5 separate regions of the Homo sapiens genome follow, and regions 1, 2, 3 and 4 are each reported to be linked to region 5. The links are microRNA targets in miRTarBase. Many come from high-throughput screens and were not tested one by one. Region 5 holds a microRNA gene; each other region holds the end of a gene's coding sequence. Distances are between the middles of the regions.

Region 1 (6,268 bases), not on the chromosome of region 5:
CGGCTTCTTCTTCGTGGGCGTCCTCTTCTCGGCCGTCTCCATCGCTGCCTTCTGCACCTTCCTCGTGCTGGCCATCACCCGGCATCAGAGTGAGGGCGGGTCCCAGGGAAAGAGGGCATGGGAGGGACAGCAGCGGGGATTTTAGCAGCATTCCCATCCTGGTTCCACAGGTTACCTCCAAAGAGACTGGGTGAATTACTTAACCTCCCCGGACACGGGTTTTGTTATGGTTCATGTGGAGAAAACAAGTCCCCACCTCGCAAGTTGGGTGGATTCTATGAAACTGATGTGAAGTCTTGAGCAGTGCATAGCCCATACAAGCACTCCTGATATTGGGACCCATTAGTCTGTGCTCAGCTCTGGGATGGGAGCGCCCTCTGGTGGCTGTGGCTGGAAATAACCAGAGGTCCTTCTTCCGGGAGTCTGATGCTAACTAAAGCAGGTTGGAGGTGGCCTAGGGTATTTGTCACAAAAGCGGAGTGGATGATACAGACCTGTGATTGGCCAGCCCTGCCCTTCCCTAATCCCCACGGCCTCCTGCCTGAAAACCCTGGAATACTCTAAAACGGTCCCCAGCTCCGTTCTACTGTTCCAGGCTGTGGAACAGTAGTGGTCCGTGGCCTGTTAGGAACCAGGCCACACAGCAGGTGAGGGGCAAGCGAGCCTTACCGCCTGAGCTCTGCCTCCTGTCAGGTCAGCGGCGGGCATTAGAAGCGCAAACCCTGTTGTGAGGCGCATGCGAGGGTTGCGTGCCCCTGATGATCTAATGTTTGACGATCTGAGGTGGAACAGTTTCATCCCCAAACCATCCCAAGGTTTTTGTGGAAAAATTGTCTTCCACAAAACCAGTCCCTGGTGCCAAAAAGGTTGGGGACCATGGCTCTAAAACCTCCATCACAGTGTCTTTCTGAAGGGTTGGTTCAGCTGCCAGGACGTTGCAGGGATGTTGAGTGGGGAGGGTGGCCCTGGCCTTGTGGCCGGTGCAGAGGCCGAGGGCAGGGCCTGCCAAAGTCACTGTCGGTACTTCTCTCCCTGCAGGCCTCACAGACCCCACCAGCTACTACCTCTCCAGCGTCTGGAGCTTCATTTCCTTCAAGTGGGCCTTCCTGCTCAGCCTCTATGCCCACCGCTACCGGGCTGACTTTGCTGACATCAGCATCCTCAGCGATTTCTGACCCAGGGGGTGAGGTCTCTGCACCCTGGGGGGGCCTTAGGACCTGGACTCAGCCTCTGAGATGTTGGGAGAGGCTACTCCCACCCCCTGGTGACCCCAGAACTGTGGCAGAAAATACACAGCAGGACGAGTGTGGTCTCCCAGGAAGCTGTCCTGCCCGTCCCCTTTCGAGGAAACCTGAGTGTGGTAGAGAGGGGATCCTGCCATGTTGCTCCTCATCAGCCTGGCCAGAGGGCAGCTTTAGACCTTTTCAAATGAATCTGTTTTCTTTTCTTTCTTTTTTTTTTCTTTTTTTTTTTTTTTTGAGATGGAGTCTTACTCTGTCACCCAGGCTGGAGTGCAGTAGTGCGATCTCAGCTCACTGCAACCTCCGCCTCCCAGGTTCAAGCAATTCTCCTGCCTTGGCCTCTCAAGTAGCTGGGATTACAGGCATCTGCCACCATGCCCGGCAAATTTTTGTGTTTTTAGTAGAGACAGGGTTTTGCCATGTTGGCCAGGCTGGTCTCGAACTCCTGATCTCAGGTGATTCACCCGCCTCAGCCTTCCAAAGTGCTGGGATTATAGGTGTGAGCCACCGTGCCCGGCCTGGATCTGTTTTCTTAGCACGCAGTGAGGAATCTTTGTACTTAAGGCCAGGGCAACAAAGTCAAGAGGTCAAGGTGTAGGGCCATGAGGCCTGGACCTATGCTGCAGGCAAGGGTTTCCATCCCCGCTGCCCTAGGCACTCTCTTCCCAAGGCCAGGTTGGGCACCTGGGGAGGTCAGTTCAGAAATATCTAGCAGAGACCTCTTAAACCCCCATCCCAGCACCCCATCCTGTTGTTCCCAGAGCTGGTCTCCCATGAGTGTGCTAGAGCCAGATAGCCGTGGCCCCCCACCCATCTCACTCACACACACAGGCATCCATACACCCCAGAAGACTTCCCAAATGAGGCCAGACTCAGGGTCACGGGGAATGTGCTTCTGCCCCTGTAAGGGCTTTGGGGAAGGGGGCAACATAGTAGAGGCTGGAAAGAGCCCCCAAACCTGTACCCATGCCCCTCCAGCCCTGCGTTTCCATTCTGCCTTCTCAGAGTGCCCTTGCTGCACCCAGACCACCGGCCAGGAGAGACCTTCTCTCCCACTCCAGCCCCTCTCACTGCCCTTCAACTAGAGCTTTCACCTTTTTACATTTCCCTTCTGAAGGACACAAATCTGCTTTTCTGCCCATACACTGGCCCAAGGGCTCACCTAACTTGGGAGGGAAGGGGCTGTTGGTACAAGGATGATTTTCTGTTAGACTGCCATTTTGCACGGTCTCCCCCTTCCCATCTGATGTGTCCTGCCCCTCAGCTCTTTGCCTTATCTGTGTCACTGTCACTTTAGCAAAAATACAGCGGCCATTTGTATCAGCCTCTGGTGGTTGCTTGTGAGGTGGGACTCTTGCGGGAACAGGTGGACTTTGGGAGGAGTGGGCAGGGAGGGAGTGGTAGTGGCAGTTCTCGAGCTATCTGATTAAGCCATTCCGCTAGTTCAGTTGTGCCCTGGAGGGCAGGGGACAGAGTCAGTATCTCTGGGGCTGCAGGCCCTCTTGCCTTGGCCCTCCTGGCATGGGGTAACCACCAGCTCAGCTCTCCTCCTCCAGCTTTCCTCTCTCTAGCACACCCCAGCCAGGGCAAGGATGCCCACGGGCATAGCTACAGCAACCCCTGCGGGATTTGGTGTCCACACCCGAGAGGCCAGGCCAGATGGGAAAGGGATTAGCGCCTCTTCCCTCACACTCTGCCAGGCTGCCAGGAGCTTGGGCCAGGTCTAAGGTAATGAGGTGCTCCTCTTCCTGCTGGAAAAACCGGACAGACTCAGAACCACAAAGGCAGGTGCTGCCAGCCTGGCGCCTTCCTCTCTGCTTAGGCTGGGTGAGCTTGTCCAGGCCTGTGCCTCACCCCTTCTCTCTTCTAGGCTCAGTGTATGCTTAATCAGGCATGGTGCATCAGAGCGGGAAGGAGCCATCAACAGTGTATACTTCTGGAGCCTTCTACTGATAAACAGAGGCCCCAGAAGACGATTTGACTTACCTGAGCTCCCAGCTGGGACTTAAACCCAGGTGTGTCTGAGTCACAACTCTTCGGGGATGCCGTGGTGAGCTGGGGCTGAGCTCCTGTATTCCCACTCCCCCACCCCACCCCCACTCCTGCCATATCAGGGCTGGTCTCTGTGGACTCAGCCCAGGGCTGCCTCCTCTTTGTCACCCCAAAGTGGGGCAGCCAGGGACAGCCAGGGTGTGTTCAGAATGGGTTCTTCCTGCAGGGCAGGAAGGGCAGATTGTTAAAGGGGCTGCGGCCCAGACCACCCTGGTCCCTCCTCCGGCAGTGACTCAGACCCACACTGTGCCGTGCAGCTGTGTGCCCTGCACACCCGCTTGACGGCGCACTGCTCACTTCTGGGGGGCCCTTTCAGAGGCACTTTTAAAGCAAATAAAACATTTATTGTTCAGATTTTTTTCCATTTTCTTCCTTTTTACAAAAACATGCATACATACACAGGGTATGGTGGGTCCTAGGAAAGACACACACACACGCCTCACTCACACACACGCTCACACACACGCCTCACTCACACACATGCTCACACACATTTTCCTTCTTGACCCCAGGCCTGGACCCCCAAAAGCCTTGAAGACTTTGCCAGAGCAGCCTCCCCTCCTCCATGTCTGTATCTTCTCTCCCACCCCTTCCCCCTCAGTCAGGCTACTCCTATGTGGGGTGGGAATCAGAGCTATGGTGGGGGAGGCCCCAGAAACAGAGAAGGCTCCCCGAGTGGGCAGTGGCCGAGGGGTCCCAGGGGTATGCTGCGCTTCTTGGGGAGATGAAGGGTTTGGCACCATTGGATCAGGAAGCACAGGACTCCCAGAGCACCCATCTGCTCCACCAGGGCATCGCCAGGAGGTTGATGTAGGGGGGCCTCTGGCGAGGGTACGGACCAGATGGAGGGCTGCCAGTCTCGGCTGTCAGGGAGCTTCGTCTCAGTGCCCAGTGGTAGAGGGAAGCTTCCAGAGTCGTCTGAGGAAGCAGGTGAGAGGGACTACCCCTGCACTCAGGAATATGGGACCTCTTGGCTCCCCACTCCCCCCTAGCCCCTAGAGCCTAGGAAGGGCCAGCCTGTCTGAGGCCAAGTTCACATTTCTGTGTGGAGCCTGAGGCTGTGTGCAAAGTCTGGGGTTTGCAGAGCCAGGAATAGTGGTTAAGGGTGAGCCCGACGGAGCCGGAGCCAGTCCTCCTCTGTGCAGTCCTGAGGAATGGGGGCCACAGCCAGGGCCCATACTGGAGGGGAGAATCTGTTCTCGAGAGCCCTGTGGGGGTCGCCGCCCAGCCCGTCTCCTCTCAGGGTCCTCTCCAGTTCCCATTCTAGACCCAGGGATTTTCTCACGCTCCCTGGGATAACTGTCAAAGCAGGCAGGCTGTTCTCTGGTTCCAACTACTTGCCCACAGGATCTCTAAAGACCCAGGAATGGGGGCTATTGCCAGGGGTTAGAAGAGAACCAGGTCCCAAGGGCATGGTGGGCGGGCAGATGGTTCCAGAGCCTTAGAGATTCATAGGTTCTTCCTCCTCCACCAGCTGCTCCGAGGGCCTGTGGGGAGGGACAAGGGTGGGATGCTGGAGCACCAGGGCTGCAGCAAGGGCCTTAGCTAAGCTTCCTCTCAACCCTGGTCAGGAAGCCTGGGAGGGTTGGGGTGGCTGCATAGCGGACCCGGGGTCTTCAAGCAGGGAGGAATGAAGCGGTGGAGAGGCTGTGGGCCCAGGGCCAGGGGTCTGGCATTACCTATCTTCAGCCAGGATGCCCACAGAGAGGGACGCCAGTGCGGTCACTGCCTCCACTTCTTCTTTGTCAGCCCCTGGCACTCTAGGCACCCAGGAGTCTGGACAGGAGGCCAGGCGCTGCATGCAGCCCCAGTATTTACCTGGGGTAAGATGCCAGGTCAGAAAGGGTTGGAGAAAGCAAGCCCCTCCACACTGCGTCCTAGACCGGATATTGAGGTTGGTGTCTCAGGCCCAGGGCCCCGGAGGAGCGGGCCTGTCCTCCACTTAGGGTCGGCTCTCCCACCTGCCCCTCTCCTCACTTCGCTCCCACTCCCGCACAGCCTGACAGGGTACACAGAGTGGGTTCAACATGGCTGTGAGGGAGTCCTAGCAGGTGCCCAGCCTTTCTCTCATCCCCTGTGGCTGCAAGGCCACCTTTGACTCATTCCCCACAGGTGCGGGGCTCCTGAGAGCATCAGGAGAGCCTGCTTGCCTGCAGACAGGGTCTGTGTCACAGTGACCTCCCAGAGCCCCAAGCTCGGGCCTCCCACTTAAACACAGCCCCCACCAGTGCTCAGCCCAGCACTCAGGAAAGGAGGGCCTGGGAGGTGGGACGAACACAACATGGGAGAACTGACCATCACCACGGCCGCTCTGCATGGGTGCCCAGGCCAGGAGAATGCTCCTCCTGCCTGCTGCTGTGAGGAACCATGTCCTGGAATCTGGCTCAGTGTGAGGGCACCCACCGTAAGAGGAATCAGCCATGTCTTTACCATTATGTAAAGACATCACGGCTCCCCTACCCAGCCCTTGATATGGGAATCTATTTTACTCATTTTTATCCCTAGTATAGATTATGGGTCTTGACATAAGATGCTCAATAGATGTTGAGTTGAAGTTGAAAATTTAAAGTACTTTACAAATGTGGGGGTTATCCCAAGACGCAGCCCCCAAGCCAGCAGAGCTCCTGAGACGCCTGTGGCCAGGACTGAGGGGAGGGATGGGAACCAGGCCTTTTGGCAAACAAGGCCTGAGTGTTGCTCTTGACCTGGCCCTGGTCTAGGGCTGTCGCTAGAGATGGAGGCCAGTCCCTACCTTGAGGGGCCACTGTCTGGTAGGCCCTGCTGGCTCCATCGGGGGGGCTCAGAGGATAACCCCTCACTGGGGGGTGCTCACCATTGCTGCCTGGGTCACTCACAGGAATCTTACTCCAGACCAACAGCAGGTCACCTGGCTGGCACCGGAAGCCCTAGGATCTGGCCACGGTGGGGCAGGGTACCACCAAGATCCTTCAGTCTGAGCTCAGCGAGTGTCCCAT
Region 2 (5,000 bases), 39 Mb from region 5:
TGATCAGGTAATTTTGGGGGGTCCCAGGGAGCTACTTAAGAGCAATTTCTGATCTGGTCTGGTGGGTGAGAGGATGGGTTCTCTAATCTCAACAGTTCCTCTTTTAGGTTCCTAGATTAGGAACATAGAATTCTTTCTGTGGAAAAAGGGAGGCTCTAGGGATTCTTATCTGAATTTTTTTGCCTTAATCTTCCAGGCAAAAGTGGAGGAAAGAGGTAAGTAGGCACAGAAGAGACAGGATAGCTGCCACACTGGATCTGTCTCTAGTTCCTGTCTAGAATGGGGATAGGTTTTTATGAGTAAGAGTTAAAATGTGGATTTGATATGTAAAAATTCTGATCAGCATATGCTGTGGGAGGCTATGTGGTATATATGGCAATTTGACTTAAAAACTCCATCTGCATTTAGAATACTCAATTTAGATATTTCATATAAATTTGTACTTTTTGAAATAGGAGAAGGGATGGTATTATAATCCTTCATTTTTTTCTGATCTCATTTTTAGGGAAGCGGGTGTGTATGGGAGAACAACTGGCAAAGATGGAATTATTCCTAATGTTTGTGAGCCTAATGCAGAGTTTCGCATTTGCTTTACCTGAGGATTCTAAGAAGCCCCTCCTGACTGGAAGATTTGGTCTAACTTTAGCCCCACATCCATTTAATATAACTATTTCAAGGAGATGAAGAGCATCTCCAAGAAGAGATGGTAAAAAGATATATAAATACATATCCTTCTAAGCAGATTCTTCCTACTGCAAAGGACAGTGAATCCAGCAACTCAGTGGATCCAAGCTGGGCTCAGAGGTCGGAAGGAGGGTAGAGCACACTGGGAGGTTTCATCTTGGAGGATTCCTCAGCAGGATACTTCAGCCATTTTAGTAATGCAGGTCTGTGATTTGGGGGATAGAAAACAAAGTACCTATGAAACGGGATATCTGGATTTTACTTGCAGTGGCTTCCACCGATGGGCCAATCTTCTCATTTCTTAGTGCCTCAGACATCCCATATGTAAAATGAGAGTAATAAAACTTGGCTTCTCTCTACCTCTCAGCACTAATGATGGTCAAATGCCTTACATCTTTTCTGATATCTCTAAAATGCTGTTAAGTTCTGGAGAAGAACTTCAGGAGAAGAAGATCTATCAGCTGGCTTTTAAAGACCTATGACAACATGAAAGTGGTGTTCAGCCTGGAATGCTTTGTCAGAGATGGGTGTGGATTTAGGTTATACTGGGGGAGAACTTTTCTCAGCACAGATTCTATGCCAGCTTCTTTGGGCTTGTTCTGTCACTATCTTTTTGTTTATGATTTTAGTTTTTACTTTTTGTAGATGTGGGATGAAGTGGACTCTGTCGTGTATATTGAGGAAAAAAGAAATTATAATTTTAAAAAATCCCTTGTAGGATTATTATCTAAATTTATATGTCTAACTTCTACTACAACTACAGGAACAGTGAGCCTTGCTACTTCTTTAGTAGCTTCTTGGCAGAATTCCTTTCTACTGAGTTATTTGCAAAGATGCAGCTCTACCTTTTTACTTAAGGCCTGAATGGTGAGCATGGGGATTTTGATACTGGGACTCATCAGGAAAGGATTCTGCTTTCAAACTATACTGAACATTCCTGTCCTAGCGTCCCTGCCACCAGGCCCAATGCATCTGATCCTTGAATATACTCTCAAAGAATTCACTCTCTTTTTATTAAGAGAACTAAATTGTTTCTAAATGTAGATGGTCCCTCTGGAAAAGCAGTTTTCAGCAGGGGTGGTAACCCCTTCAGAGGGAGTTTGGAAATGTGTGGGTATGATTCTTGGTTATCATAATGATGGGGGTGCTACTGGCCTTCTGCTGCCATGGGACCAGGATGCTAAATGTCAAGGTAGTCCTATACAGTGAAGAATTGTCCTGCTCAAGATGCCAGGATTTCCCCCAGTGAGAACATGCTCTAAGGAATGACCACCCCTTTCTTTTATTCTCCCACAGTGCTCCATGTACAGAAGTAAGCATAGCAGTCATATGAGCAACCACATTCCTGAACCTTTCCTCATGCTGGCTCTACACTTAATCCTTTACTTGTATGTTTCTGTAATTCTTACATAAATTCTATTAAGAGGGTGGCATACTGTAGTGGATGAAGCTGAGGCTTATAGTAGGTAAGGCACAAAGTTAAAAAGTAACATCACTGGGTTTCAAACCTACTGGTCTCTGTGACTAAAGAACACTTTCAGAACCACTTCTTGATTCTGCCACCACTTGATCCCATAACAGGCTACCCCTTGGCCTCATGCTGGAGTTGTGTGTGTCTGTCTTCATCCCAGGCTGAGCTCCTTGAGGTGAGGATGTTGTGCTGTTTGCCTCCCTCACAGTGCCTTGGTCTTAGTGGATGCCCAGTTGTCTTGTGAATGACTTTTAAGAAGTGTACTTAAGAGAAAAATCCTACCTTATTTGAATAATTACAAGTCATGTTTTTGTTGCTTAAAGGTGATAAATCAGTGTATATTATTTGTTAATGTCCATTAAAGCCAGTTTTTAAAAAAATCACTGGACTTTTGTGTTTACCATTTAAAACAACCATTTTAAACAAACTTAGAACGATGCCTTAGCTGTTTATAGGTAACAGAATGTAAACTCCCACCACCTGGAGACTAGGCCATATCCAGGGACCTCACACTGACTTTCCTAAAGGAGAGAAGCAGCTACGCTGTTCATACTGATAGAGAAGAGGGCAAGAAAAGATCCAGAGTGGCTGTTACTTTGAAAATTAAACGAAAGATGAAATTCTGAACTTAAAACACTTCTGTTTGGCCTTCTATAACTGATCACCCTTCTTTGCTCTGTTTTCCAGATAAATGGAGACACCAGATCTCCCTAACCTCTGACTTCTGCCGTTAGCCATACTCTGTGTAGTTAGATCTCAGTCTGGGAATGGCATTCCAGGGCAATTGTGAACATGAGGCTAGATTTTTCCTTTGATTTAGCACATTCCTAGGCAGACTTTTGCAAGCTCAAAAAATGAAAATAATATCTGCTTAACCAAAACATAATCATAGGAAGAAGAAAAATTTTAAAATGATTGATTTTTGACTCTACATTCTTTATCTACCATACTGCTCTTTTCCTTTTTAGAAATATTACTAAGCACTTTCCGTATAGATAAATGAAATACAGGCTAATCTTTAGGTGTCTTAGGAATTTTTGCTTTTTGAAAAAGAAAAGCTAATAGCCTAACTGCAGAGGAACTGAGTGGATGGGGTAGCTGCTGTATAGATTTTTAGATGAGATGATACAGTGTGGATTACACTGTACCTTGGGCGGGAGAGTTTGTTCTTGATATGGAATTCATATGCTTTTGAATTGCACTAATAACTCAGCATTAACAAGTATATTACTCCTTAAATTATACATGCATTTTCAATATTCCTAACCAAATAGTTTATAGCTTATTGAGAAGAAGTCTGTTCTTGGAGAGATGTTGAAATTAGATGTTTATTAAACTTTAAAATATAATGCCTTAAGCTGTGGCACTTTAAAAACATCTTTATATATAAATTGCTAAAAGGACTGTTAATGCTTTTCTCAGACACATTGGCATTTTACAATTTTGCACATGGTTTATTTGAAATCAAAAAATAACTATACTTTGTTTTATAAGTCTACCTAATATCTCATTTTTGATTCTCATCGTTAGCACAGTTTTGTTGCTTTTATTAAACTATTTTAACTGAGAAAGTGTCATGTCTGTTTTTTGTTTTGATTTAATTGCTATGCAAAATTTTGTTTTACCAGATGTCAAGTTAATGTAAAAAGAAAAGAAAATAGGCCTCCAAAGACAGATGTCCACAATAGAATGTAAGCATGGTCCTTAGAAACAAGGGTAATTCTTTAAAACTTTCCCCATGGAGTGAAGTTCCTTAGAGGACTGCATCACCACCCAGGTGTCTTATATTCCCTGTAGAAGCCCAGCATGAGTTGAGTTGAGAGGAGATGGGCCCACATGAGCCTGCTGTGGCCAAGTATTGAGTGCTGGTCTCACACTTCCCAGCTCAGGAAAAAGAGCTTTTTCATACTTGAACCATATTTTGCCTGTGGAGGGACCCCCTGCCAGCTTTTTCCACAGCCTACTCTTCTTCCTGAAGTCACAGCTCAGACAGCATCTCCTCAGAGAGGTCACCCACCATGACATCCAAAGTGGCCTTTCCTGAGAACTCCCTAATCTCATCACCCAATTTCCTCCAGAGCCCTCATCACTAACTGCAACTACCTTGTTTATTTAAACCTTCTGTTTCTATCCTCTCTCTCATCTCCACTCCATGAGGATGTCAGGGACTGACTATATCTGATAACTTACCAAGAGTGGATGCCTTATGCAGAGCAGGCATCAGTAAATATGTTGGGCAAATGAAGAATTAAGTGAGTTTGATGGAAGGTGATTATTTGACCCTTTAGGCTACAGAGGTGATGATACAGGCAAACCTGTCATTGTTTTCTGTCTGCTGCCTCAGTGACTGTGGCTTGTGCCACCAGAGTATGAGTTCTGGTGAAATAACAGTAGTGAAACAAGGGGAACACCAAATAATGTGGCACCCTCAAATCTACTTCGGTTTTGCTGCACTGTTTTTAGAAACCAAATTCATTTAAGTAGGGTATTTGTTCATTAGTAAATAATTTGGTATTATCATCATTGAAATGATATACTTTTATATTATTTTATTTATTTTTTTTGAGACAGGGTCTCACTCTGTTGCCCAGGCTAGGGTGCAGTGGCATGATCACGGCTCACTGCAGGCTGAAGTGATCCTCCCACCTCAGCCTCCTAAGTACCTAGGACTACAGGTGTGTGCCACCATGCCTGGCTAAGATATTTCATATTCTTATCAGTTCTTCCCTTTGTATGAGGGTCAAATAATCAGTTTTTGTTAAGGGAAAAGGCTAATTATCCATAAGACTCTCAGTGGATTGCTCAGCAAAATCCCTGCAGCCAAGGATAGAGTAGGATGATGTAT
Region 3 (6,203 bases), not on the chromosome of region 5:
ACCAGGAGCCTGGAATTGCGTGGCACTACCCAGTAATAAAATGTTAGATTAATAATGCTATTTCTCTGTATTTTCACTGTTTGTTTTTTTTTACACTTTAACGTGAACATCTGACTTTTTCACATTGAACACATATTACTTTTTTTTTGAGACAGAGTTTCACTCTTGTTGCCCAGGCTGGAGTGCAATGGCACAATCTCAGTTCACCCACAACCTCCGCCTCCCAGGTTCAAGCGACTCTCCTGCCTCAGCCTCCCAAGTAGCTGGGATTACAGGCATCCACCCTCATGCCTGGCAAAATGAAAAAGATTTAAAAGTAATATGTGTTCAGGCCACCGCGCCCGGCAAAATGAAAAAATTTAAAAATAATATGTGTTCAGGCCGTGCACAGTGGCTCACGCCTGTAATACCAGCACTTTGGGAGGACGAGGCGGGCGCATCACCAGAGGTCAGGAGTTCGAGCCCAGCCTGACCAACACGGAGAAACCCGGTCTCTACTAAAAATACAAAATTAGCCAGATGTGGTGGCGGGCGCTTATAATCCCAGCTACTCGGGAGGCTGAGGCAGGAGAATCGCTTGAACCCGGGAGGTGGAGTTTGCAGTGAGCCAAGATTAGGTCATCGCACTCCAGCCTGGGCAACAAGAGGGAAATTCTGTCTCAAAAAAAAAAATTGTTTTCATTTTTATCAAAGTCAAATATACATGTAATGTATGGAAGCAAATGGTTCTACAAGACTTATTTATTTTTGTTTTTATTTTTTATTTACATTTCTCTGCCAGAAATCTTGGACTTACAAAGCTTATTTAAAAAGTAGTCTGTTGTCAGAAAAGATGGTAGCCTAGTCTTGGTATTCCTGTGGAGAACTTAGAAAACCTGAAGAGTACTTGTACCCAAATTGGATTGTGTTTTAATGGACAATGGCTATATTTTCCCCATGTCAAAAGAATACCAATGAAAGCAGCTGTTTTTCAAGTTCCTAGGGGTCCAGTTGTCCAGAATCCCCAAGGATAAGATGCTCCCTATAAGAGCAGAACCTTAACCTCACTCAGTGACATCGTAGGAACCTCTAGCTGTGGAATTTCTTAGGAACTCAAACTTTCAAAAGCATCCAGAGAGTCAAAGCTGGGGGAAAAAAAGCACATAAAAATAACAAAATTTTTAGGCCAGGCGCAGTGGCTCACGCCTTAATCTCAGCACTTTGGAAGGCCAAAGCAGGTGGATCATGAGGTCAAGCATTCAAGACCAGCCTGGCCAACATAGTGAAACCCTGTCTCTACTAAAAATACAAAAAATTAGGTGGGCGTGGTGGTGGGTGCCTGTAATCCCAGCTACTTGGGAGGCTAAGGCAGGAGAATCGCTTGAACTCGGGAGGCGGAGGTTGCAGTGAGCCAAGATCGCGCCACTGCACTCCAGCCTGGGTGACAGAGCAAGACTCCGTCTCAAAAAAATAAATAAATAAATAACAACAATAATAAAATTTTTTATTATTTTTAATTTAATTAATTTATTTAGAGATGGAATTTCGCTCTTGTTGCCCAGGCTGGACTGCAATGGCACAATCTCGGCTCACTGCAACCTCTGCCTCCCAGGTTCAAGCAATTCTTCTGCCTCAGCCTTCCTGAGTAGCTGGGATTACAGGCATGCGCCACCACACCCGGCCAATTTTGTATTTTTAGTAGAGACGGGGTTTCTCCATGTTGATCAGGCTGGTCTTGAACTCCTGACCTCAGGTGATCCGCCCGCCTCGTCCTCCCAAAGTGCTGGGATTACAGGCATGAGCCATGGCACCCAGCCATAAAATTTATTTTTTATATTCTACTAATAAATGCTGTTGTACTTGGGCATGATCAATCATATAACTGTCATTTTTTGGTTTTATGCTGTTTTGGTTTGGTTTTTGCCAACTATATTCACATTTACAAACTAACTAAATAAAATCATTTTATTTAAAAAAAAAAGTAGTCCCGAACCCTTCCACCCTTCATTTTCCACTCCCAAGATGTAACCTTTTCATCTTTTAGCCATTAATAACTTGCTTATACTGCAATTTCTTGGTTTTAAAAATTTGACATTTACTGACTTCCCACTATAAGGAAGATTAATTCAGTTTTTGCATACCTGTGACAGTCGGACCCTCAGGGTTGTCCTGTGGCCCCCCACCTCCTGAGGTTCATATCTATGTAGTAAGGAATTTAACCTAACCCAAAGAAAAGTCTCACCTTTGCCCTTGGCTTCTGAAAGGTAATGGCTGAATTCTTGGAATGTGCCAGAAAGTATAACAATGTGATTTATGGTGGGGTCTTTGGGTCATGGTATCAGCTTATACTGTTTGCCTTCCAGAGGAGCTGGAGACTGAGGTTAGACATATGTCCAGCCAACCATGAGCTGCAGTAAGAACTCTGGACATGGCTCAGGTGAGCTTCCCTGGCTGGCAATATTCTGCGTGTATTGGCACACATTGATGCCAAGAGAATAACATGTCCATGACTCCACCAAAAGACAACAGAAAGTGCTGTGTTTGCTACTCTCTTAAACTCTGCCTTACGCACTTCTTCCTTTGGCTGATTTAAACTTGCATGCTTACTATATAATAAACTGCAACCATGAGCATAGTGGTTTTAGTGAGTTCTGTGAGTCTTTCATCAAACCTCAGGGTGGTTTTAGGAATCCCTTGAAATTGCAATTGTTGACAGAAATGAGGGTGGTCTTATGGGAACTGTTTTCCCCCTAACTGTATCGCTGGCATCTGAGACAACAAGAACACCCTTGAGTGATTCCTCTCCTCTTGGGTATGAGAGGGACCTTTGACTTGCTTCCAATCAATAGAATACAGTACAGGCAACGGACTGTACATAATTATGTGTATGTAATTGTGTTAAACAAGTTTGTAGCACTCCTCTTGCTGGAGTACCTCCCTTGCTGGCTTTGAAGAATCGAGCTACTGTTGTGGGCTGCCTATGTTGGGAGGCTCACATGGTAAGGAACTGAAGACAGCTTCTAGGAACTGAGGGCAACCTCTGGCTGACAGCAAGAAACTGAAGCCCTCAGTCCTACAAATGTAAAGGAACTAAATTCTGCCAACAAAAATGGTTCCTTCTCCAGTCAAGCCTCAGATGAGGCTACAGCGCTGGCTGACGTCTTAATTATAGCCTTGAGAGACTCTGAGCAGAGCCACACCCAGAATTTTGGCCCACTGAAAATGTGAGATAATAAATATGTGTTGTTTTAAGCCTCTAAGGTTGTGGTTAATTGTTACACAGGAAACTAATGTAATCTCCCTACCACTGTCACCATACAGGAACTAAGCCTATTGTCCTATCCTAACCACAGAGTGGGTAATCATAATTTCTTTCTTTCTTTTCACATTAAAAAAGTTTTTTTTTAATTTTTTTTTTTTTTTTGAGATGGAGTCTCGCTCTGTCACCAGGCTGGAGTGCAGCGGCACTGTCTTGGCTCACTGCAACCTCTGCCTCCTGGGTTCAAGCGATTCTCCTGCCTCAGCCTCCCAAGTAGCTGGGATTACAGGCACGTACCACCATACTCATCTAATTTTTGTATTTTTAGTAGAGATGAGGTTTCACCATGTTGGCCAGGCTGGTCTTGAACTCCTGACCTCATGATCTGCCCGCCTTGGCCTCCCAAAGTGCTGGAATTACAGGGGTGAGCCACCGCCCCTGGTTTTTAATTTTTTTAAAGTCGACAACAGTCCATAACTTCAATAAGATTAATAGTCAATGGTTACATTACTATGACTTTGTCAATACTTAAACAGCTGAGCAATATTCTTATATCAGACTTTTCTTTCATGCATTCATTTTTCTTATGGAGTTAAAAATTGCTTAGATTGGCTGGGCACAGTGCTCACATCTGTAATCTTAGCACTTTGGGAGGCTGAGATGGGTGTATCACCTGAGGTCAGGAGTTTGAGACCAGCTTGACCAACATGGTGAAACTCTGTCTCTACTAAAAATACAAAAATAATTAGCCAGGCATGGTGGCGTGCAACTGTAGTCCCAGCTACTTGGGAGGCTGAGGCAGGAGAATTGCTTGAACCGGGAGGAGGAGGGTGCAGTGAGCCAAGATCGTGCCACTGCACTCCAGCCTGGGCGACAGAGTGAGACTGTCCCAAAAAAAAAAAAAATTGCTTAGATTATTTTATTTGCATAGTGGTTTATTTATCATTAATTGTCCCCAAAACTCTTCAAATGTCTAATGTTTCTCTTAGTATGTTCAAACATAGTAGGCTGTTAAACAAGATGTATAAAGCAAAAACCATAAAAAATTCAACTCCAATTTATTCTCAAAAGCTTGAATGAGAAAAGAAATCAACTCCATTAAAATTTAAAAATCTTTACAATAAACAAAACAATACAAAACAAAAAAACCTTGTTTACTAAAAGACACCAAAAAATGTGCAGACAACCCATATGGCAGAAGTTATTTGTTACACAGACAACGAATGAAAGATAAATACCCCAAATATATTAAGAACTTCCCAAAACAATGAGAAGAAAACTAACCCATAAGAAAATGTGCAAAATATATGAACAGGAAATATTTAACAAACAGCAGTTGCCTCTAGGCTGAATGCTACCTAAAATAAAAAAAGTGTTACTGAAAGTAAAAATAAATAGATAACAGAAAATAAGTTAGGTTTTACATTTAGTCACGTATATTAAAATAAAGTATCTTATGTTTTCTTTTAAGATTATGTATTTCAGCCAGGCGTGGTGGCTCACACCTGTAATCCCAGCACTTTGGGAGGCCAAGGCGGGCGGATCACAAGGTAAGGAGATCGAGACCATCCTGGCTAACATGGTGAAACCCCATCTTTACTAAAAATACAAAAAATTAGCCGGATGTGGTGGCGGGCACCTGTAGTCCCAGCTACTCGGAAGGCTGAGGCAGGAGAATGGCATGAACCCAGGAAGCAGAGCTTGCAGTGAGCCAAGATCATGCCACTGGACTCCAGCCTGGGCGACAGAGCGAGACTCCATCTAAAAAAAAAAAAAAAAAATTATGTATTTCCTGGCCAGGCACGGCGGAGAGCTGTTTTTCAGTAAGAACTTGATGAATTTAATTAAGGCAATATGTACTTTATCTTTTTTTATTCCAACCTAAAAATGTCATTTATTTATTTATTTGCCTGCATGATAAAGCAAACATGGTAATGTTTTTAGATTTCAAATACTACTTTTGCTTCTTATTCCTTGACTAATCTTTTTCCTAGGATAGTCAATCCTTTATACTGATTAGAGTTTATTACAACAAACTGAAAACTGAATAATTATTTACATTCATTTTAGTCAATTATTGCTGTGACAAATTTCAAACATTCCAATTATTACAGTCACTAATTTTTGTTATTTTGTTGCTTTTCTAAAAAATTATTTTAATAATTTCCTAATTTATTTTTCTTATTTATTTATTTATTTTTTGAGAGGAAGTCTTGCTCTGTCACCCAGGATGGAGTGCAGTGGTGCCATCTTGACTCACTGCAACCTCCACCTCCTGGGTTCAAGTGATTCTCATGTCTAAGCCTCCCGAGTAGCTGGGATTACAGGCATGCATCACCATGCCCGGCTAATTTTTATATTTTTAGTAGAGATGGAGTTTCACCATGTTGGTCAGGCTGGTCTCAAACTCCTGACCTCAAGTGATCCGCCTGCCTCGGCCTCCAAAGAGCTGGGATTACAGGTGTGAGCCACAGCGTCTGGCCCCTTTTCAAATTTTTCTTGTATTCTCCAGGATTTAGGGTGACTCTAGTTCTTAGATCTTTCTAAAAATACAATCTCAAAATTCATCAAAAACTGGAAACTCATTGTTTCTTTCATATTCAATTTGCTTTGTCAGAAATTCCTTACTTCTTTTGTCAATTAAGTTGCTAGAGAATAGATTGAATTCAGGAATAAAATAATTCTCAAGTTTTTCTGTCCTGAGGCACTGAAGAAAGTATGTCACGCAGTTATCAAAGCAGAGGCCCAGGTCTTTGCGGTCCCACTGACTGTCTTGAGGGTTCTGGGTACATACGTGAAAGAAGGCAGTTTTCACATGATAAGAAGAGAATTTATCCAGATGTTTTTTGTCTTTAAACCTTTCTTTCAGCTGTTCTAAAAGGTATTTCATTAGTTTTAAACAATCTTTCCTGTTGAATAAAAAAGGAAAACACTTATTTTTACTTATTTACATTCAACAAAGGAT
Region 4 (6,263 bases), not on the chromosome of region 5:
AGGATGGAACCAGGGAAAAGCCTGGGCTTAACTGCTTATTGAGGCATGTAGTGTATCTTTAAGTCATTTATGCATTTCAGTACTTACTAATCACATTGAATATTTAAATGCCTGACAAAAATCAATGTTGTTTTCCATGAAAACTTCCACTTGGCTAGTTTTTGTCATGTTGAGCAGTGTTGCCATGTTACCACAAACCATTCCTCTACTAATCGTGTTTTTTTTCTCAATAAGGATAACCTCAATAATCTACTTATTTTGGTTACAAACCAGAGTTAAGACTAACTGTTACATAACACTTGGCCTGACTTCCAAGAAAGCTAATGTTTTGCTTAAGCAAATGAAGTAATTTAATAAGTACTCGAAAATCTTGCTCTAATTTCATGTGGGAGGGCAGCTTAATCTTTTTTGCCCCATACTTCTGATGGTGTTTTTGATGACTACCCAAAAATCTAACCAAACTCATTTCTGATCTCTTCTACATGTTGTGTAACTTACGTGATGTCTTATCCTTTTAAATGCCAACGAAACTAAGTTGATTTTTGTCCATCAAATATATCTAATCCATTCACTATGAAATGATTGTAGTTCCTGTGAATTTAAACACTTCTTATACGCTGATACATACACCTTGGTGTCTTAAAGACAGATGAGCCCTTGGGGATTTCTTTACTGTATATGATTCTGTAGGGACTACATTTGGGGAGTGGAGACAATTTCCCAGGATGGCATACCAACTAGAAGCATATTACCAAAAGAAGCAAGTTTTTTTCATAGAAAAATATCTCCATTCAGGGTCAGCTCTGGTTTAACTAAGGCATCTCACAAAACATTGTTCTCTAAGAGCACTAAATTCCATCTTGCATGCCAGTTGAGAGTGGTATGTTAGCTGGGACTTGAAACTGGGTATGTGAGCTGAGTAATGGTATGAACTTACATGTTATTTAAAACAGCTACACTTCTTCTGGCTCACGCCTGTAATCCCAGCACTTTGGGAAGCCCAGGTGGGCGGATCACGAGGTCAAGAGATCGAGACCATCCTGGCCAACACGGTGAAACCCCGTCTCTACTAAAAATACAAAAAAATTAGCCGGGTGCAATGGCGGGCGCCTGTAGTCCCAGCTACTCGGGAGGCTGAGGCAGGAGAATGGCGTGAACCCAGGAGGCGGAGCTTGCAGTGAGCCAAGATTGCGGCACTGCACTCCAGCCTGGGCGACAGAGCAAGACTCCGTCTCAAAAAAATAAAAAAAAAAAAAAAACAGCTACACTTCTTCAGTAAGGGCTTGCCCATCCCCCTGCATACCTGATTTAAAGTACTCCTGCCCTGACCAGAGCATGGAGCCAGCCTTCAGGGATTCCAAAGTGCCGGATCCTACTAAGTCAAGGCTGTTGATACAGAGGTGAGATCGTTTCACAAACCTGTGTGACTCCAAGATGGTTTCCATTCTTTCCTGCTGCCTGGAGTTAAGAAAGGCTTTCCTTAAAAGGGAGCATTGAAGCCGAGTCCTAAGAGATAAAGAGCTGCGCAAGAAAGTAAGCAAGGAAGGGTATTCTAAGGATAAGGAAGATAATGTGCAAAGGGCTAAGAGAATGTGGCTCTTTAACTGAAACATTCAGTATGGCCAAAGATAAACAGGCCCTTTGGCACCCCCTACTTTGTTAGGCAGAGACAGCTTTATTTCATAGCAATGTATGAACAAACACCCTTGATCTTTCCCTAGGTGGGCAGCCAGGTTGGGCCATACAAATGGGGCAAATATGCTTTGCACATTACTTGGTAACACAAAAATGGAAACTAATGATTTGAGGGTCTTTTTAGGCCACATCAAGCTATCTAAAACCCAGCAGTAGCACAGAAAGGGCTGGGAGCAGCTTGATGATGAAGCTGGTATTCAGTTGGGTTGAGTCTAGGCACTGACCAGAGCATGGAACCAGCCTTCAGGAATTCCACAATGCTGGATCCTGCTAAGTCAAGGCTGTTGATACAGAAGTCAGACCTTTCCAGATTTCCTATAAAGAACAGGGCACGGCAAGTGCTGTAATACTTCAGGGGAAATCTCTTGCTATAATATGGAAGACTGACCAGAACAGGGGAGAAACAGCAGTAGGATGCTCACCACCTTAAGAGGCTACAGCAATCATTAGGGCACAAGATAGCAAGGGTTCAAAGTGAAGCGAAGGGGAGAGGAGGGACTGGATGTGGAAATGTGTGTAGCAAATTAATAGGATTTGGTAATTGTTTCGGTGTAGGAGGGGAAAAGAACTAAGAGACCTTAAGTTGATGGTGCCCTTTGTTGAAATAAGGGAAGGCGGGCAGAACGCTGCCCCAATTTTTTGACAAATGAGTTTGAGGCTACCTGGAAGCAAGTCAGATAAAACTGTCCAGAGGACAGGAAGAAGCAGAGATCAGGAGGGGGAGGTCGAGGGCTGGAACTTAAGAGATTTGAAATCCCTTTACGTATGACAGTGGCTTGTGGGATGAAGGGCACTACAAACTGATCAGTGATAGCCAGACTCTGGGGAAATGTTTTCCCCACAATTCAATGAAAAATCTTGAACAAACCCAATTAGATTAGTATTTTCAGTATTTGAGAGCAAAAGAAAACCACTTAAGTGCTATCGTATGTGAGCTGAGTAATGGTATTAACTTACATCTTTATACAAATGCTCCAATCTCAAACTGAAATTTTGAAGAAAATATGACAAAAATGTATTTGTGTACCTGGTACTTAAATAGACCAATAATTAAAAATTAATCTCGTAGCCATTCTTTTTAGCTCCACTTAAACAGACGATCTGGTTCAGGGACTGACGAACTTTTTCTGTAAAAGAAGGGCCAGATATATTTCAGACTTTGCAGGCCACATGGTCTCTGCCTCAACTATTCAACTCTGCCATTGTGTGAAAGCAGCCACAGACAATATATAAATGAACAAGCATCAGGCTAGATTCAGCCTGCAGGCAGTTTGCTAACCCCCAACCTAATCCATGAGATCATAATCATAAACAATGGAATGGTACATCCCCTTGATTAAATTCAGACTGCTTCCCGATCATGTATTTTGCCATTACAGCCCAAGAGCACTTATTCTAGTTGTTGGTTGTTCATAGTTCATCAAATAACAGGAATATAATGCATCTACTGGTGTTACCGAATGTGCCAAAGGGCCCCATCCCCTTGTACTCTTGAGCGTGCCTTTCAGAGGCGCAGGATGCCCCTCGTGAGCTCTGGGAGTAGGCACAAATGCCCATTCCGTTGCCGGTGTCTTCAGTAGGGAAGCAGGGAAAAGGGAAATTGAGAACATATTTACACAGCCAGAGGACTCCGAGTATATGACTAGACCACTAAGAACAATGCAGACTGAAAACATGGTTATAGTTTTTCACACTAAACGTAGTAACCGTAGTAACCATAGTAACACTACCAGTAACTGAGTGAAGGCTGTTGGTCACTTGGCTTGTGAAACCGAGCATTAACAGTTCCAGAAATGAGCTTACTAATAATTTTTATATATTGGTATCCCCTTAACTGTTTTATGTGATTTATCTAATATTTTGACATTGTTTTCATTTTGGTTTTCAGGGGAGCCCTGGAAGCTTATGTTCAATCAGTGAGAAGTAGAGAAGGCAAAGAATTTGCACCAGTTTATCCCATAATGGTTCAGCTGCTTCAAAAGGCTATGTCTGCTCTTCAGTAATGACATGAAATCTTTGTTCATCTCCACTTTGTGCTAACCCATTCATAGTTGGCAGTTAAACACATACTCCAAAAGACTGCTACTATCTACTATTTTAAGAATGTAATTGATTGTTCGGTATTTCCTATCGACGTTTATTTACCTCTTTAGCACTTATACTTTAGCATAAAAAATGTTGAGTTATCACCACCTTTCAATTCCATGGACCTGATTTTTCCAGAAAGATGTTTTCCTCTTTCAGATTTTTGTACAAGGCTAAAATGTCTTTCCCATCCATAACCAAGTCCTCCTATGGGTACATAAACCCAAAGTCCCCACTTCTTTTAAAGGGATATGATCAAGTTATAACATGTACCCTGCTTCCCCCAACCCTGCCTTCTTCACTAAATAAGCATGTAGCTCAGTGGTTTCCAAATTTGGCTGCACATTCATACCAATCACCAGGGGATTTTTTTAAAATCCTGATGCCCAACTTGCACTCCACATTAATTAACATGTCTAGGAGTGGGAGCCTGACAGACACCACTATTAAAAAAAAAAAAAATCCCCAAAATGATTCCAATAGACAACAAAGTTGAGGAACCACTGGCACATCCCAAGCTAAGATACAAGGTTAAATGGCCTTTTTAAGTATGTCATACTGGATCTTTAAATAAAGCAAGGCTTTTGTTACACTTTGTCATGTTATTAAAAGCAGACCTTTGGGCTGTTTAACCGTGTAACAAAAATGCCACGTGAAAAATAAAAATTTTTATTGTATAGCAATTCTCTATAAATAGTAGATAATCTAAGTCCTTATTTTCTGATGGCTCTTGTTCCACTATTAACATTGTTTTTAATTTTTAAAATCCTATCAGCAGCCTCCTAATTAGCAGTGTTAGGAATTTGCCTTATGTTTTCCATCTCATCTCCTGAACCTGTTATTCTGAGAACTCATAAATAAAATTCAGCCAAGATTAATCAATCAATCAATCAATCAGTAGACGTCAGAGATAAGCAACTTTTTTTTCCATTTATTTGAAATAATATACAAGAATATAGTGTGCAAAATTTAGGGGCAACATCATGAAGAAGTGTGATGAACTGAAATCAATTTTACAGCTGTGATTCCTAACCAGAAACACCACTTGGTAAGTAACATGAAAAGCCATGATTGTAGCTCAGAGCAAAAGCAGCTGTATTGCCAATGTATTTGCTCTAATTTTAGACAGTTGGAGGAAAATTAAAGTGCAAGTGTTGCACTGCAGTAAGTGCAAAGTCTGCCCCCACCATAAAGATTATGATGACAAAATATATTTAAGATACATGGCTGAGGAGATACAGAACACGAAGTTAAAAAATACAATGGTGTTGACTGTTTGTTAATAGCACCATTACAGTGACTATATCCCAATGCTATTAACTAACTTTACCTTGGCCTGGGCTAGGTCTCCATTGGAAATAATAACGGATGGCTGCTGCCACCTGGTGCATCAACTCAGCATGCCATGGTAACTGCAGCAGGTGGCTCTTAGGCTGGGACACCAACACCAGCCACCTGCCCCATGTTCTGGTAGCCTCTTGGCACTGACCAGACTAGGAGCGCCTATGTTTGGCACAGATGCTGAGCCATGTGGTGGTTACTAGAGGAAAGGCCGACTCCCAGCTTCTGCTTCATTTCATCATGTGTACAATACAGATTAATAAGCAGTAAGGAGCCAATGTATAAACAGCAGTTACATATTTTTTAAATTCCCCTTTCGTACAATTTAAAATAAAACATGTATACACTTCTCCTCTCTTTCTACTGTACTTTAGCACCACAGGATATCAATTTTCAAGCCTATTATTACCTGATAGACATATATGAAGTTTGGAAGAAAAATAAGGCAATTTGGTTTAAAATGTTGATAGTTTTAGCTTAATGCTCTAATGGAGAAAGCAAATCCTCACTCATATTATTAAATCATTTCAAGACTCAATGCTATCAGTATCTTATGGTCACACGAATTGAGGACAAATGGTGAGACCTTGATCTTCTTAAGTCTTTCCATCAAGAGTCAATGTATATGCAAATATAGACTTAAGAACATAAGCATCCTGGTTTAATGTTGTTGTGAGCCCTGTGGAAATAAAATTAAACTCAGTGAATGTTTACAAATCAATACATAGTAATCCTATATATGAAAGCTAAGATGTATAAGATGTTTATAAATTTACTATTAGAAAATACTGCTTTCTTAAAGGTGATTTTAAAAAGCTAGCTGATATCTGATGGCTCAAGCATCCAGAAAATGTATGCAATGATAAGACATTGACTAGGATGAACAGAAAAGGGATACAGGAAAAGTCCGAACACATGAAATTCTAAATTAACCAAGAACTGCCAAAATTCAGTTCAGCCACCCTCTCATCTGACTACTGACTGACCACTATTTTTAAAGAAATTGTGAAAAATTTAAACAGATATGACCTGCATTTTACTAAGAAACAGGCACATGTACACAATGAATTTAAAACATCTTTGGCCAGCCCTCCTACTATAAAAATATTGATATCTTCCCTTCATCTTTCAATGATACTTCA
Region 5 (6,268 bases):
TCTCTCTTTTTAAATTTTTTTTGGTGCTGTCCACGCTTCTGTGGACATGCCTTGGATCTTGTTAAATCCAGAAATTGCATCACCTCTGAAATCTCAAATCTATTTCATTTTGTTATCCTCATAGCTCATTTGCTCAAGAATATTCTCTGCAGGACATCTATCTGTCAGCAAGTCTTGCTGGTTCTTCCTTCAAGTCATGTCCCCAACCCAGCCACTGCTCACTGTCTTCACTGTTAACATACTACCTCAGGCCACCATCATGTCTAGTTTATAATAACTTGGCTTTCCACACATTACTTCTCACTGCAGCCAAAGTAATTTTTATAATGTAACTCAGATTTTTTACATCCCTATTAAAAAAATTCCCATAGTTTCCAAAGCCACTGGAATTAATCCAAAGCTCTTACTATGGATCCTATAAAGCTCTAACTGATTTGACACTTGATTTCTTTAACTTCACTATCCTCTGCTAGCCCCTTTGCCCACTACACTTAATATTCCCATTTTAATTTTTCATCTGCATTCCAGGCCCATCTATCTAACTATATACTTGACATGTATACTTGGATGTCTCACAAGCATCTCAAACTTAACCTGCCTACACACACACACACACACACACACACACACACACACACACACACACACCTTGTGCCTTTACCACCCACTTAATTGTTCAGAGCAGAATTAGTGGTTACTCGTTTCTTTTCTCTGTGAGGCCTGTCATTTTTATTTCAAAGAAAACCTTGAAGTCATCCCTTCTCCCCAGTTCCATTGCCAACACTCTAGTTCAAGTCACCATCATCACTAGGTTGGACTAATAGATTAGACATATTTTTTGGTCTCCCATTTCTATTTTTGCCACAGTCCACGTGAGTCTTATCTTCAATACCAGTGACAGCACGTCCTTCAATGTGCATGCTTTGTTGATCTGCATGCATTAAAAGAATAACATGCTTTTGTGAAAAGTTGGGGGGTGTTGTCCATCTGGCGAGAATACAGATCAGGCTTTGAAAATGCCTTAAGAAAATGCCTAACTTGCCAATTATACTTTTGGTATTCAAAATATATAGATATAGCATCTGTATTAGTTAGTTTTTATGCTGCTGATACATACCAGAGACTGGGTAATTTATATAGGAGAAAGGGTTTAATGGACTTACAGTTCCACATGGCTGGGGATGCCTCACAGTCATGGTGGAAGGCAAGGAGGAACAAGTCACATCATGCATGAATGGCAGCAGGCAAAGACAGAGAACTTGTGCAGAGAAAATCCCCCTTATAAAACCATCAGATCTGTGAGACTTATTCACTGTCTTGAGAACAGCACAGGAAAGACCTGCCCCCATGATTCAATGACCTCCTACTGGGTCCCTTCCACAACACGTGGGAATTCAAGATGAGATTTGAGTGGGGACACAGCCAAACCATAGCTTCTATATTGTTCCAACTCCAAATCAGAAGATTAGGCCTAATAATGCATAGATTGATGATGACAACTCAGGACTATCCTGGAAAATTCAGGCCAAAAAGTTAGGAACATATTGACTGCAATAGGAAATAGAAAATATGTGGGCTGTTGCTAGGAATTCTTTCCTTTAACTAAAATCTATCTTTTTAAAAGTCAGAAGAGCAAGTATTGTAAAAAAAAGTAAGTTTACACTTATTCTACCCAAGGGGTAAAAACATGTAGCTAAGTAAATTCTTCATCTCCCTTTTCTCAGAACTCCTTAAAGAACTTAGGGAAATGTGATGTGAGCAACCATAGTTCCCTAGATTACTCCACTTTTTTTCTGTTATTAAATAAGGAAATTTTATACCTTGAATCTTATATCAACAGTTGCTATATAAAAACCACCCTAAAGCTCAATGGCTTAAAACAATAATTTATTTAGCTTATGATTCTGGTGGTTACCAGTTTGAGTTGTTTGCAGCTGGGCAGTTCTTCTGCTGGCTTCTCCTGGGATCACTCATGCAGCTGTAGTTATCTGGTATCTCGACTGGAGTGAGATGGCCTAAAGAAGCTTTCTTCAACTGTCTGGCAGGTGGTGCTGACCATCAGCTGGGCTTCTCTCTGAGGGTGGTTGTTATCCTCAAGAGGGCTAGCATGTGCTTTTATCCATAAGAGGGCTAGCCTGGACTAGAGTGTGAGAGCAGAAGCTGCAAGGCCTCTTGAAGCCCAGGCTAGGAAGCCATACAAAGTCATTTCTATTGGCCAAAGCTGGCCACAGAGACAGCTCAGATGCAAGGGGAAGAGAACTATACTCTACCACTTGACAAGGGAGTGACAAAATCACATTACCAAGTGTTAGCACGCAGGGATGAAAAGAATTGGGGCCATCATTGCCAGCAATCTACACAACTTCATTACCCCTTTAGAGAAACACTTTCTCTGAGTTATTAGATTAGTGCAAAAGTAATTGCAGTTTTTGCATTACGTTCTATGGCAAAACTGTAATTACTTTTGTACCAACATAATACTTCATATATGTATATCTGTATGTATGGTTATGTACATGTGTGTATATAGATTACATGCTGTAACTCAGAAATATACATGTATGCACACATAGCATACTTGTGCATAAATAAATTATTTACTAATATGTAGGTATGCATTAGTGAACCTATAAACATTTGGACAGGAGTTGTTTGTGGTTGTCTATTATGTTGTCTAAATGCATTTGTAAAAGGATCCATGCAATAAATGCATAAATATGTCTTAGAAGATGTGTAACTCTTAAATAAATAATTCTTTTGTTCAGATAAACAATGCATAATTCATCACTGGCCCTTATTTTGGCATCTAGAAAGCTCAGAGTTAAATGTAATGTCATTGTCCATTCTTGATATTAGCTTAGATATAATTGTCTTTCACTTAGAATTAGTTTCCAATTGCAATTATTTACTTGCTTATTGTTTATGTGTATTTATTATAAGCTACTTCAATCATTTTCAAAATGAGATGAAATATAAGCAAAACATTAAAAAACATAACAATGTGTCTTTTGAAGTATCAGATGTATTTTCATTTTAGAGAATGATAATAATGCACTCTAGAAACTCTGGAGAACCAGTTCACTTTGGCAATGTTTTTAGTCTTAGCTTATGAAATAAAGATAGTTCAAATAGTGGAGAAGAGTGCCCCAGAGAACTACTGGGCTCAAATGCTTATAGTTTAATTCGTTCTATTTCTTCCACTTCACAATCAATCATCTAGAAAAGCCATGATGACTCATCCTTAAAAAAGAGTCATTGATTTTATATCTCCATTTTCAATCTGCTCTTCAATTCACCTCTTTCTCCTTCTAATTCAGAAAGGAGTCTTCATGGAGAAACAAATAATTAATTTGGTTATTGGCCAATATCAGGTTATTCTCTCACATGTGAGAGATATCTAAAAATAAAGCTACTTTTTTCACTTTCGGTTCTTGTCATTATTTTTAGTAAATTTCTGAATTATAAACTCCCAATTCATACCATGCATAATATTTTTCTTTGATTTTCCTTTTCTCTCCAAAAGAATCCAAATATTTCTCCACAACACAATTGCATTTGTCTTGCCCTTTTTAGACTAGAAGTGCAAAGAATGCAAATGGGTATGGAGGCTATACCATTTTAGTCATTTAATTGTTCAATCACACTTCACTGATTCAGGGATGGCTTATCTGGCAAACTCTACCACCCAGGGCACAGTCACCAACCTGTAATAAGCAAAGAATTGCCAGGAAAATGTTATATTACATTCAAGTTGTCAATTTTAAAAGACATGGGAAGATTTCCACCGAAATTGTTTTTTTTTTTTTTTTTTTTTTTTTGAGACGGAGTCTCGCTCTGTCGCCCAGGCTGGAGTGCAGTGGCACCATCTCGGCTCACTGCAAGCTCCGCCTCCCGGGTTCACGCCATTCTCCTGCCTCAGCCTCCCAAGTAGCTGGGACCACAGGCGCCCGCCACTACGCCCGGCTAATTTTTTGTATTTTTAGTAGAGACGGGGTTTCACCGTTTTAGCCGGGATGGTCTCGATCTCCTGACCTCGTGATCCGCCCGCCTCGGCCTCCCAAAGTGCTGGGACTACAGGCGTGAGCCACCGCGCCCGGCCCCGAAATTGTTATTGTTGATGTTCTTATTAGTTTCTGTGCTTTAAAGAGTTATGTTCAATTACTGGGAAATTAATTGATTGCAGGACTCATTCACCATTCTTTGCACAGTTTTTTGTTTGTTTGTTTGTTTTCTTTTTTTTTGAGACGGAGTCTCACTCTGTCGCCCAGGTTGGAGTGCAGTGGCGCGATTCGGCTCACCGCAAGCTCCACCCCTCGGGTTCACGCCATTCTCCTGCCTCAGCGTCTCTAGTAGCTGGGACTACAGGCGCCCGCCACCACGCCCGGCTAATTTTTCTAGTTTTTTTTAAGTAGAGACGGGGTTTCACCGTGTTAGTTAGGATGGTCTCGATCTCCTGACCTTGTGATCCCCCTGCCTCGGCCTCCCAAAGTGCTGGGATTACAGGCGTGAGCCACCGCGCCCGGCCTGCACACAGTTTGATGGAGCGGGCACTACACATCAGGCACTGACTAGGAGCTGGATCCTCTGTAGTGATGAACAAAACAAACACCACTGCCGCCTTGATGGAGCTTGCAGGATTGCAGTGGAGATGGACAGTTACTAAGAAAAAAAAAAAGTAGAACATGGGGGTATAATAGAGAACCCCGAGTGGGAGTGAGGAGATAGAGAGCATGATTATTTATTTAGAGTAATCAGGTAGGGCCAGAAGCCCCCAAAGAGGATGGAGCCAGCAATGTGAAAAGGGGAAGAAGGGTGCAATAGCAGAAACAACGACCAAAGGATTTGAGGTAGGAAAGAGATTGGCAATGCAGAGGTGCTGCAAGGAGGCTGGTGTGATCAGAATATGGGTTAGAGGGAGAACAGAATGATTTGGGATTGAGGAAGAAATTGCTGGATCATGGAGGGTTCTGCAGAATACAGTAAGGAGTCTGGATTTTATTCAAAGTATCATAGGAAGCCTTTGAAGGATTTCAAGCATAGTCACTGGGTAACCAGCTTGAAGTGTTTTGTTGCTCTTTGTGTTTGGTTATATTTGTTAAAAAACAAAACAAAACAAAAAAGCAATGCAGGAATGCTTCTGCAAATGTGTGGTGAAGAAATGAATACATATTTTAAAGACCCTAAATCTTAAACAATTGAGGGAGGATTATATAAGAAAAATAACTGAAAACTACAAATATAAAATGAGGAACAGAGTTGTCCTGGGAGGGCAGAGCTTAAGCTTCATCGTGTCATAATATATCCACTTATTTCTGGTATTGTGGAAAGGGTTGTATTGATATCTCTGGCTTTAGGTGGGAACCAAAGTTGATTTTTAATTTTGAGAATTGCTTGAAGCACTTTCTCCACCATTCATCAGAAGCTCTGGCATTTTTTTCTTTTTCTTTTTCAACCTTTCTTGTATCTCACTATTCAATGCCCCCTGACTCAGAGAGCCCAGGTTAAACACTCATTTTTGTTTTGGCACTTGTCTTCAAATTGATTTGGAGATTTTCTGTTCCACACAAATGTATACATCCTTTGTAGCAATGTATCTCAGAGGGTTAGCATGAGTGCATCTGAAAAGGTATGGGACCGGGAGATGAAATCAAAAAACATGATGAGATTTCTGCATGTCCACATGTTTTTGAGATTCCTTTCTCTCAGGAAACAACAAAACTGGAAATATTCCAGAAGACTGTTACAGTGGTATTCCAAAGCTTCATTTTTTAAGATCAAAGACCCTGGAATGTTCAAGGTGCTTTATTGAGTTGGAGCCTCTGCTTCTTTTTGTTCAACATTCCTGTCTCCGTTGAAATCTCATTGAACACAGTTGCGTATCTCTTACCCTACTTCTGAAGCTGTTTTTCCATAGGAAATGGTGTCTATCCTGTGAATTGCATTCTCTAAAGAAATAGTGCTTTAAAGATCAGCCGCCTAATTTATTCCATTCTCAGGGCTTTGGAACAGAAGTTGAAATGAATGAAAATAATTGAGTTTGTAGGCCTGGTCTGCAGATATGAAAAATGTCTGGAAACTGTTGAGTATGGAATGGCTTTAATTTACTCTGTGGATTGCAGCCCGTGATCTGCCTGTTTGTTGTTAACTTTCATAAAAGAGAAAGAAATGCAGAGAGCAAAAGCTTTCAGAATGACTGTAGTTGGAAGGAACTAGTACTTGAAGCTCTACAATTGTTATTTACATTGAACAATGGGGGTATTGTTCTGGA

The links. The annotated mature microRNA hsa-miR-548aj-5p reads UGCAAAAGUAAUUGCAGUUUUUG and lies in region 5 at 2,410-2,432, shown strand. An mRNA with a match to its seed (bases 2 to 7 or 8) in the 3' UTR can be bound and repressed. Matches are read on the target gene's strand: a 7mer-m8 pairs with bases 2 to 8, a 7mer-A1 pairs with bases 2 to 7 and ends in A, and an 8mer does both.
Region 1: miRTarBase lists SLC48A1 as a target of hsa-miR-548aj-5p. Seed matches in the 3' UTR shown: 7mer-A1 at 2,460-2,466.
Region 2: the mRNA of CYP2U1 is a reported target of hsa-miR-548aj-5p. Seed matches in the 3' UTR shown: 8mer at 2,992-2,999 and 7mer-A1 at 3,597-3,603.
Region 3: the mRNA of CGAS is a reported target of hsa-miR-548aj-5p. Seed matches in the 3' UTR shown: 7mer-A1 at 4,536-4,542.
Region 4: the mRNA of HBP1 is a reported target of hsa-miR-548aj-5p. Seed matches in the 3' UTR shown: 7mer-m8 at 4,864-4,870 and 7mer-A1 at 4,742-4,748.

The regions. Positions count from the first base shown.
Region 1 is chr12:47,779,107-47,785,374 of GRCh38, forward strand. It overlaps SLC48A1 (solute carrier family 48 member 1), which reads left to right. Exons shown (of 3, transcript NM_017842.3): 2 at 1-89; 3 at 1,039-3,645. The coding sequence ends at 1,175. It overlaps HDAC7 (histone deacetylase 7), which reads right to left. Exons shown (of 26, transcript NM_015401.5): 25 at 4,973-5,111; 26 at 3,616-4,780. The coding sequence ends at 4,735. Among named protein-coding and RNA genes, the nearest start is that of SLC48A1, 9.0 kb to the left of the region's middle. RefSeq lists a silencer at 430-479.
Region 2 is chr4:107,949,740-107,954,739 of GRCh38, forward strand. CYP2U1 (cytochrome P450 family 2 subfamily U member 1) reads left to right here. Exons shown (of 5, transcript NM_183075.3): 5 at 506-3,722. The coding sequence ends at 684. All of the region lies in intron 1 of LOC107986298 (a long non-coding RNA gene), which reads right to left. Among named protein-coding and RNA genes, the nearest start is that of CYP2U1-AS1, 20 kb to the left of the region's middle.
Region 3 is chr6:73,419,432-73,425,634 of GRCh38, forward strand. It overlaps CGAS (cyclic GMP-AMP synthase), which reads right to left. Exons shown (of 5, transcript NM_138441.3): 5 at 4,280-6,147. The coding sequence ends at 5,796. Among named protein-coding and RNA genes, the nearest start is that of DDX43, 28 kb to the left of the region's middle. RefSeq lists a silencer at 2,155-2,449.
Region 4 is chr7:107,200,951-107,207,213 of GRCh38, reverse strand. It overlaps HBP1 (HMG-box transcription factor 1), which reads right to left. Exons shown (of 11, transcript NM_012257.4): 11 at 4,692-5,800. The coding sequence ends at 5,783. It overlaps COG5 (component of oligomeric golgi complex 5), which reads left to right. Exons shown (of 22, transcript NM_006348.5): 22 at 3,584-5,842. The coding sequence ends at 3,698. LOC124901720 (a long non-coding RNA gene) reads right to left here and starts at 3,584. Exons shown (of 2, transcript XR_007060471.1): 1 at 2,723-3,584; 2 at 1-1,521.
Region 5 is chr4:147,340,845-147,347,112 of GRCh38, reverse strand. It overlaps MIR548G (microRNA 548g), which reads left to right and starts at 2,396; the gene lies at 2,396-2,484.